Linked DNA regions of Homo sapiens: region 1 is linked to region 2. Evidence: fine-mapped expression QTL. A gene starts in region 2. The other region holds a variant in brackets. All regions are shown on one strand. Distances are from middle to middle.

Evidence for each region. PIP is the estimated chance that this variant, and not a neighbour inherited with it, causes the effect.
Region 1: its variant is fine-mapped to the expression of ZYG11B in monocytes after R848 (Quach 2016, PIP 0.95).

The regions. Positions count from the first base shown.
Region 1 is chr1:52,808,775-52,814,150 of GRCh38, forward strand. ZYG11B (zyg-11 family member B, cell cycle regulator) reads left to right here. Exons shown (of 14, transcript NM_024646.3): 11 at 4,762-4,959; 12 at 5,086-5,138. Among named protein-coding and RNA genes, the nearest start is that of ZYG11A, 31 kb to the right of the region's middle. The variant A/AGAG (reference allele first, on the strand shown) is at 2,277.
Region 2 is chr1:52,724,242-52,729,617 of GRCh38, forward strand. It overlaps ZYG11B (zyg-11 family member B, cell cycle regulator), which reads left to right and starts at 2,212. Exons shown (of 14, transcript NM_024646.3): 1 at 2,212-2,442. The coding sequence starts at 2,413. RefSeq lists a silencer at 2,023-2,602.

The DNA.
Region 1 (5,376 bases), 85 kb after region 2:
TCTTTAATGTTTTTGTTCTTTTGTATTCTGTGTGTTTCAGTTTGGATAGTTTCCCTTGCTATGCCTTCAGTTCAATATTTTTTTTCATCTGCAATATCTAATCTGCTACAATGCCATCTGGTAGATTTTTTCATCTTAGACATTGTCATTTTCATCTCTACAAGTTCAATTTAGGTGTTTTTTGTATCTTCCGTGTTACTACTTTTTGAATATATGAAATAAAATTTTAATAACTCTTTTAATATCCTAATCGGCTAGTTTTATTTAGTATCTGTGTCAGTTCAGGGTCAATTTCAAGTGATTATTCTCCTCATTATGAATTATGTTTTCCTGATACTTGGCATGCTTAGGTTTTAATTTACTTTTTAAAAAATTTATTATGTTTTAAATTGTGGTAAACAACGTAAAATTTACCATCTTAACCATTTTTAAGTGTATTGTTCAGTGGTATTAAATACTTTTATAATGTTGTAGAACCATCACTACCACTCATCTCTGTAACTGTTTTCATCTTGTAAAACTGAACGTCTGTAACCATTAAACAATACTATTCCATTCCCCCATTCTGCAGGCCCTGGTAACCACCATTCTATTTTCTGTCTCTATGATTTTAACTCCTTAACTACTTCATGTAAGTGGAATCATACAGGTGATCCGCTTGCCTCTGCCTCCCAAAGTGCTGGATTACAGGTGTGAGCCACCGCGCCCGGCCACAAATATCTCTTTTAAGACTCTACTTTGAATTTTATGGGGTATAGTTCCAGAAATAGAATTACTGTATCATGATAATTCTATTTTTAAATTTTGAGAAACTACCATACTGTTTACCACAACAGCTCTACTGTTTTACATTCCCACCAACAGTGTCCAAGGGTTCCGATTTCTCCACATTCTCACCGCTTGTTATTTTCCTTTTTTTTTAATAGTAGCCATTCTAATGGGTCTGAGACAGTATCTTGTAGTTTTTGTTTGCATTTCTCTGATGATAAGTGGTGTTGAGTATATTTGTATGGGTTTATTGGCCATTTGTATGTCTTCTTCGGAGAAATATCTATTCAATTCCTTTGCCCATTTTTAAATTGGGTTGTTTGTGTTTTTGTTGTTGTATTTTAGGAGTTCTCTATATATTCTGGATATTAATCCCTTATCAGATATATGTCTTGCAAATGTTTTCTCCCATTCTGCTTGGTAGTTTTTGATTGAATGCCAGACATTGTGAATTTTTACCTTCTTGGTTGCTGAATATTTTTGTTTTTCTATGAATATTCTTGAACTTTGTTCTGGGATGCAGTTAACTTACTTTTAAACATTTTGATCACTTTGATCACTTGCTTTTTATGATTTATTAGGAGGTTCCAGAGCAGTGGTCAGGCTATGGCTAATTATTCTCTGCTACTGAAACAAGACCTTCCTGAGGACTCTACCCAGTGCCTTGTGAATGAAAGGTTTTTCCATACTGGGTGATGAGAATATGTGAGAACATGCACTATTCCTGGCCCTCTGTGAGCACTATGCACTTTTCTCTAACTCTTTAGATGGTTATTTTCCTGCCCTCAGCTTCCTTGTGTTCATTTTATTATCATTACTCTGCTGAATAGAGTGGGACTCTACAGATGGCTGGACTCACTTTATGTGCAAATTCCCTTCTCCCTGGTGTTCTGTCCTGTGAGTTACCTTCATCTCTGTGGACTGTTCACCTCATCTCCTACTCCATTCAGTCTACTGAGCTCTGCTTCAGGTCTGTATCCCTGTGCTACAGCCTGGAAACTTTAAAGGCAATAGCTCACTTTGTTTTCCATCCAGTAAAGGACACTGAGAGTCACTGTCCTTTATTGCTTGTGACCAGTATCTTGAGAACTGTTTTTCCATATTTATTTGGATTTTTTAGTTGTTTCAGGCAGATGTGTAAATCTGTTTTTACTCCACCTTGGCCAGAAGCAGGAGTGCTCATCATTCCTCAATTTAAAAACAAGAAATTGGCTGGGCAGGGTGGCTCACACCTGTAATCCCAACACTTTAGGAGGCCAAGGCGGGCGGATCACCTGAGGTCAGGAGTTCAAGACCAGCCTGGCCAACATGGCGAAACCCTGTATCTACTAAAAATATAAAAATTAGCTGGCCATGGTGGTGGCTGCCTGTAATCCCAACTACTCAGAGGCTGAGGCAGGAGAATCACTTGAATCAAGGAGGCGGAAGTTGCAGTGAGCTGAGATCCTGCCATTGCACTCCAGCCTGAGCGACCGAGCAAGGCTCCGTCTCAAAAAAAAAAAAAAAAA[A/AGAG]AGAGAAATTTATCTTTCATATTTACTCACATTTCTCATTCTATTCTTTTCTTACATTTATTATCCTATAGGTGTGCTAGCAATGACTTCTCACTCACGTGTTGTTTACCTAACAAAGTTTTTTATTTTGCTTTGATTTTTTGAATGATAAATTTTTGGTTGGCTATTGAAGTCTAAGTGGACAATTTTTTTCTGTTGAATCTTTGGGTTTATAATTTTTATCACATTTTGCAAAAATTTGGCCATTATTTCTGCAAATACCTTTTTTCATACCCTCTCTAATCTCTGCTTCTTCTATGACTTCAGTTATAAGCATGTTAGACTTCTCGACATTATCCCACAGGTCCCAGAACTCCACTATTGGCTTTTTTCCCCAGTCTGATTTTTTCTTCTGTGCTTTGATTTGGATGGTTTCTATTTCTTTTTGTGTGTGTGAATAGAGACAGGGTCTCCCTATGTTGCCCAGGTTGGTTTTGAACTCCTGGCCTGAAGTGATCCTCCCACCTCAACCTCCTGTGCTGGGATTACAGGTGTAAATCAGCATGCCCTGCCATGGATGCTTTTTATTTCTCTGTTGTTTAGTCCACTGATTGTTTTTCCGGAAGCATCTCATCTGCTGTTAATCTCATCCAATATATTTTGCTTTTCAGATACTTAGTTTTGTTTTTTTTTTAATTTCTATAATTTACATTTAGGTTGGCCAGGCGCGGTGGCGCATGCCTGTAATCCCAGCACTTTGGGAGGCCAAGGCGGGCGGATCACGAGGTCAGGAAATTGAGACCATCCTGGCTAACATGGTGAAACCCCGTCTCTACTAAAAATACAAAAAAATTAGCCAGGCATGGTAGCGGTTGCCTGTAGCCCCAGGTACCCGGGAGGCTGAGGCGGGAGAATGGTGTGAACCTGGGAGGCGGAGCTTGCAGTGAGCTGAGATCGCGCCACTGCACTCCAGCCTGGGCGAGAGCGAGACTCCATCTAAAAAAAAAAAAATTTACATTTAGGTCTTTCTTATGTCTTCATTTTCTCCCTTCATGTTTATGTCTGAATTATATTTATAATATTTATAATAGCTGCTTTAAGTCCTTGTCTGCTAATTCTATTATCTCTGTTATTTTTTAGTCCATTTCTTTGGATTGATTTTTCTCCTGGTTATGAATCATATTTTTCTGCCCCTTTGTATGCCTGGTAATTTTTTTATTGGATGCCGGTCCTTGTGAAATGTAACTTGGTGATTGCTAGGTTTTATTATTTTTCTCTAAAGAGTCTTATACTTTGTTCTTGCATGCAGTTACTTGCAGATCAAGTTGCTCTTCTTGAAGCTTGTTTATGTGTTATTTTATTTTATTTTATTTTTATTATTATTTCTTTGTGAGACGGAGTCTCGCTCTGTTGCCCAGGCTGGAGTGCAGTGATACGATTTCCACTCACTGCAGCCTCCACCTCCCAGGTTCAAGCAATTCTCCTGCCTCAGCCTCCCGAGTAGCTGGGATTACAGGCACATGACACCACGCCCAGCTAATTTTTCTATTTTTTTAGTAGAGATGGGGTTTCTCCATGTTGGCCAGGCTGGTCTCGAACTCCTGACCTCAGGTGATCTGCCTGCCTCAGCCTCCCAAAGTGATGGGATTACAGGCATGAACCACCATGCTTGGCTGTTTTGGGTTTGTTTGTTTGTTTGTTTGTTTGTTTGTTTTGAGATGGCATCTCACTCTGTCTCCCAGGCTGGAGTGCAGTGGTGGGATCTCAGCTCACTGTAACCTCTGCCTCCCGGGTTTAGGTGACTCTCGTGCCTCAGCCTCCCAAGTAGCTGAGATTACAGGCATGCACCACCACACCTGGCTAATTTTTGTGTATTTAGTAGAGACGGGCTTTCTCCATGTTGGCCAGGCTTGTCTTAAACTCCCAACCTCTCAGGTATGAGCCACCACACCCAGCCCTATTTATTTGTTTTGTTAGAGTGGCGTCTTATCAGACTTTACCCTACGGTTCATATATAATTTAGCCCTACTACTATCAAATACTTTGCTTATTATAAGGTCTCTTGAGTCTGGCTAGTGGAAATGTGAACTACTCCTATCCCTGTGTGACTTTAGGATTTATTCATATACTACTTTCTGGTAGTTCTTTCCCTAGCCTCCTGGAGTTTCACCCTTGTCATTACTGAGCCAGAGATTTGGGGTACAGGTCATGTGTGCTCTGTCTCTGAGTGTGGAGCTTTGTCCTTTCCAGCACTCTGTTCTACAGAGTTTTGCTGCTTGACCACCCTAAACTATGATCTCTGTTTCAACAAAACTGCTACTTTGTCTTTGGCTTACTCTTACCTTCATTGCAGTCTGTAAACTGCCCTCATTTGAATACTTTCTCTCAGGGAAATACTTTTCTTTCACCTTCCTGAATTGCCTGTTATCCAGGGCCTAAAAACAGTTATCTTAACCATTTACTATACATATTACATTAATTTTTATATTTTCTTTTTTTTTTCCAGAACAATATAGCTGAAGTACAAGAATTACATTCTGAATTAATGTGGAAAGATTTTATAGACCACATCAGTAGTCTCCTACACAGTGTGGAAGTGGAAGTCAGTTACTTTGCAGCTGGAATTATTGCCCATTTAATATCCAGAGGTGAACAAGCTTGGACATTGAGTCGTAGCCAGAGGAATTCTCTGCTGGATGATTTGGTAGGGTCATTCCATACCAACAAAAGACATTCATAGTGGTTAAACTATCAAAGCCTCATAATGTAGTAAATAATGCAGTGCTAAATAAATATTGTAATCCTTTCTTGTGTGTCTTTTGTCTTCCAGCATTCAGCTATTTTGAAATGGCCAACTCCAGAGTGTGAGATGGTAGCATACAGGTAATTAGTATCATAATTAACAGTAAACCAGCAACCTAGTCTAGAGATCATTCCTAAGAGTCATTCCTACTAGATGCATAATTTTTCCCTCAGGCACCTCAATATTGGTTATTTATTTATTTATTTTGAGACAGAGTTTCACTCCGTCGCCATGGCTGGAGTGCAGTGCATGATCTTGGCTCACTGCAACCTCCACCTCCCAGGTTGAAGCAATTCCCCTGCCTCAGCCTCCCGAGTA
Region 2 (5,376 bases):
TTACGCGTGTTGGGTTTAATAATAAAAATTCTGCCTAGAGTAGTCAAATTCATAGAGATAGAAAGCAGAACAGTGATGGCGAGGGATTGGGGGAAGTTAGGAATGGGGAGTTATTGTTTAATGAGTACAAGCTTTCAGCTTTGCAAGATAAAAAAGTTCTGGAGGCCTGGCACATTGGCTCACGTCTGTAATCCTAGCACTTTAGAAGTCTGTGGCAGGAGGATTACTTGAGCCTAGGAGTTTGAGACAAACCTGGGCAACACAGTGAGACCTTGTCTCTACAAAAAAAAAAAAAAAAAAAGGTAGCCAGGCGTGGTGGTATGTGCCTGTAGTTCTAGCTGCTTAGGAGGCTGAGGTGGGAGGATCGCTTCAGCCCAGGAGTTTGAGGCTGAGTGAGCCGTGATTGTGCCACTGTACTCCTGATGGGTGACAGGGTAAGAACTTGTCTCAATAAATAAATAAATAAATAAATAAAAGAAAAAATAAAAAGTTCTGGAGCTTCTTGATGGGGATGGTTGCACAACAATGTGAATGTATTTAATACCATTGAACTGTACACTTTAAAATGGTTAAGCAGGTTTAAAAAATCTGGGCTTGCATTTTGGATGCTTGTTTTTAAATTTTAATTTTTTCTAGTAATTAATTTTGATTGTATTTTACAGAAATTTAGTTTTGTGATTGGGGATAAAATCTGGGTCTTTTAGCACAGATGCTTGAGAACTGAGGAGGATTTGATGTTAGCTAAAAGACAAATAATTAACTTGTAGTAAGGAAAGGAAGGCAGAGAGAGCATCAAAGCAGAGTTACAGGTTCGTTGGAAGTCATGGTGGGTGCTGGGAACTTGTAGATGTTCTTTTTGGTTTGTTTGATTTTCTTGTGAATTAGAAGCAAAATCATCAGCTAAATGAGATGAGGGAGGAAGTGTCGGAGGTTTGAAGAGACAGGAGACTTGAAATAGTTATGTAGCAAGGTGGGAGAGTGTGTGAAACTGGAGAAATGTGGTAGGGTAGCCACTCATTATGGCCTCTTGAGAATAATGATCTCAAATTTACGGGGAGTCAGTCAACCACTTTTGGCTTTTTCTCCACCCACTCCATTGCTGGAGTTCTGTCAGTACAAAGAAAGCAGAGAACGACTAGAGAAATGAAGGTAATACTGAAGAAATCGACTTCATGTACCTCATGTACTCACTTTCTTCCCCAAACAGCTTAGATTCTATTAGATTCCATTTCATGACGGACGATAGAATCTAAGCTGTTTCAGGAAGAAAGTGAGTACATAAGGCCAGCGTGGGGAGGAATAGCGAAAAGGTAGTTGGATCAATGGATTTGGGGTCTTGGAGTTGAAGTTTTTGGAGTTGGAGTATTATCAGACAGAGTGAGCTAGAAAGGAAGAAGGTTGTGGCCGGGCGCAGCGGCTCACGCCTGTAATCCCAGCACTTTGGAAGGCCAAGGCAAGCGGATCACCTGAGGTCAGGAGTTCGAGACCAGCCTGGCCAACATGGTGAAGCCACTTCTCTACTAAAAATACAAAAATTAGCCGGGTGTGGTGCCGGGTGTTTGTAATCCCAGCTACTCGGGAGGCTAAGGCAGGAGAATCACTTGAACCCGGGAGGTGGAGGTTGCAGTGAGCCAAGATCGCACCACTGCACTCCAGCCTGGGCAACAAGAGCGAAACTCCATCTCAAAAAAAAAAAAAAAAAAGAAAGAAAGAAAGAAAGAAAGAAAGGAAGAAGGTTGCAATGGGAGTTAGAGGATTAAAATTGAGATTGTAGAGAAGTTACAATTATTCGTATGAGCATGAGAGTGAGAGGCTGAGCCAAGAATGATCCCTAGAGAAGAATCTGAGAGGCCAGAGGATTGGAAGAATTAAGCGAATTTTGAAATAACCAAGAGTTATGACAATAGTAGTAATGAATGACAGTGAACCAGAAGCCCAAATCTTAGAGAATGATGGTGAATGACAGAGGAGTCTATAGGTGACCGAAGTGAGCGATGCTCTAATCTCTCGTCATGATGTAATATTTAAAGCTTTTCATATTTTGAAGGGATGCTAGGATTTGGGGGTGTGTGGCTCCTTTAAGGGCCTGGGAGGGGGAGAAGCTGGAGGTCGGGCTGGGGGGGGCGGGACCCCCTCGTCTGAGTCTGCGCATTGAGAGCGGAGGCGGGTCCAGGCGCGGGCTCGCGCGCCCGGGCGGGTCCTCGCGGGGGCGGAGTCTGCGCTCTGGTTCGGGCTGCGGCTGCGGCTGCGGCTGCGGCTGCTACTGCTACGCTCCTAGCTTGAGGGAAAGAGGCCGAGGCCTGGGCCAAGCCCGGAGCCGCCGCTCGCCGGAGCCTCCTGGAGCCTCCGCGCCGGCTCAGCCTGGGGGCGGGCTCCGGTCCGGCCCGCCGCCGCACCCAGGACGGAGGCTGCATGCCCGAGGACCAGGCCGGCGCAGCCATGGTGAGGGAGCAAGGCCTGCCCTAGCCGCAGCCGCCCGCCACCCTAGCCCCCGCCCGTCGCGCTGGCCCCTGCGGTCTTGCCCCTCCCTGTCTCTGGTGTCCCCTCGGGCTCCCTGCCTTTACCTCTCTCCCTCGTTACCGCCCCCTCGGTGTTCAGCTCCTCCTTCCCCATTCACCTGCTTCGGTGAACCCCTTTAGGTGACACCCCCTGAATCTCCCTTCTCCCCGATGACATCCTTTTTATCACCCCCAGTGACAGCCTTTTTCGCATTCCCTTTGTCGCCCACTCCTTGTCCTTTAACCCTAACCCTTCCTTTCTTTCTCCTCTATCATTTTGCCTTTTTTCCTCTTATGTGATTTTTACTTTCCCCCCTTTCCTCCCTAGTTTTCGCTGCTCTTCCTTGCTCTTCTCACCCCTCTTCACCATTTTATCTCCACTGCCCCCTTCTCTCCGTGTTCCTTCTCCCCTTCGTCCTCTTCCATCCACGTTTCCTCTTCCCTTATCGGATGTCCTCGCTCGGTTCGCCGTCGCAGCTGTCCCCATTTCCTTCTACGGGCTTCAGGGGTCTAAGCAGGAACAATTTGAGGACTGTTGCTTCCCGGGAGCTGTAGGGCGGGCAGATAGGGATTTATAGGTTTGCTTCTTCCTTTTCGTTTTTGGAGGCATTGAAGAGATCCTGGAAGCCTATTCACCTAGTGTCATTGCAAAATCGAAGTGGTGGTGTGTTACAGAGCAGTGAAGTGAGGGCCAGCATGCATACTGTGACCTCAGGAGAGATCTAGTCTTTTGACAGAAATAGCTAAAAAATGTTTTGAATTTTTTTTATTTTGAGCATCTTTTAATGTGGAGGTGCAGTTGGAGAAGTTTAAAAATACTTATTTACAAGCTTGGCTATTATTACTAAAAACAAATGATTTGTTTTCATTTGGAGGCAGAGACCAAGGGCATTTGAGGACTGACAATCAGGTTGGCAGGTTGTGACAGTCTCTTTAAACCTTCTAAAGAGTTCATTTGTTTTGCCCTGTCTGCCTTTAGTTGGGAGAACCTTATATTTGCAAATTTTCTTTCTGTCTGAAAATAGGTTGAGGCTTCAGTTGGTTTTTTCATTGAGTTGGGTTATAAGTGGTTTGCTGTACATTTATTGAAAACATTGCTCCATCATATGCAACAAGCTAAATTTTGGTCTCTGGGAGGAATAAGGCAAAACTAAGTCCTGATAATTATGTTCCCCTAGGAGGTTAGTCAGTTTCTTTTTTTCCCTCCAGCAGTTTTTTAGAAAAGTAATATACTATAAAATTATTTAATCTATGAATTTTCCCTAACTCACTCCTGCATTTTTAGTCTGTCATTTTCCTGTGTTTGTCTCCTTCACTTTCACACACTGTTGTTGTATGCTAACCTGTTTCTCCCTGTGGAATGTAAGTTCTAGGTAGCAACCGTTCCTTACTTATTATTCCAAGTGCCCAGGCCAGCTAGGTGCTTGAATGATTCACTTTATGGTCTCATTTCCCACCTGACTAATATAAACTTAAACTGAAATTTGAGGTAACTAGTGGACTACACAGAAAGAGTGAGTTTGAGAATTGTTGTTTGGAGACGATCTTGCTCTGTGGCCCAGGCTGGAATGCAGTGGCACAATCATGGCTCTTTGCAACCTTGAACTCCTGAGGTCAAGTGATCTTCCCACCTCAGCCTCACAAGTAGCTGGTACCACAGGCACGGACTACCGTGCCCCGCTAATTTGTAAAACTTTTTGTAGAAATGGAGTCTTGCTGTGTTGCCCAGTCTGGTCTTGACCTCCTGGATTCAAGCCATCCTCCCACCTTGGCCTCCCAAAGTGCTAGAATTACAGGCATGAGCCATCACGCCTGGGCAGAGAATCTTAATTTTGATGCAAAAATGATATTGAGTGAGGTATGATGATATACTTTTCAGAATAAAGAGCTATCCTACCTAAGACATTACACTGCTAGATTTTTGAAAGTGTGGGCCCTTCCATTGAGAATGAATGTATGAGAGGGAGGAGTTATGAACTCCCCTTTGAGGTATTTAGGATCTAAAAGTGTCCTTTGAGCTGGGCCTGAAAGTTGAATAGGATTTATATAGATCATTTTGGGAAGGGGAAGAATGCCTCATTGTGAATGTGAGTAGCAAGTAGAAAGGATCCCCTCACAGGGATTTTTTTTTTTTTAAGAAAGAAAGTAGGAAGGAATTAGGATGCATTGTAGGAAGTAGTATTACCCTTATATAGCATGGAAGGATGCAAGAATGGAGATGTGTAGTAGGAAATGAGGCTAGCAAGATACTGTCTTAGCCCATTCAATCTACTGTAACAAAATACCATAAACTAGGTAGCTTGTCAGCAACAGAAATTTATTTCTCAGAGTTTGGAAGGCTGGGAAGTCCAAAATCAGTTCCCCAGTGGATTCAGTGTCTCGTGAGGGCTCTTCCTAAGTCACCTTTTCACTGTTTTCACACATGGTGGCAGGGGCCAGGCAGCTCTCTGGAGTCTCTTTTATAAGGGCACTAATCCCATTCATGTGGGCACTAACTGGTGATCTAATCACCTCCCAAAGGCCCCACCTCCTCATACCATTACCTTGGGGGTTAGGATTCCAACATATGAATTTAGGGAGACAGAATTCAGACCACAGCAGACATATTAGGCATGATTATGTTTTAAACTTTGCATCTAATTAACTTGATTTTTCCTTGCTTGTTAAAACATATACACACAGAGTAACAGTGTATGTATGGGAGAGGTGAGGAGAAGGCAGAATATTAGCTTATTTTGAGCTAGGAATTATCAGTAGAGGCCACTTTCTCGTGCAATATTTTTGTAGATAATAAATACAGTTGAATGAATGATTATTATAAAGCTTTGTATTTTATATTTGTTAAATGTTAATTAGGTTGTGTTTGAATAGTTGAGAT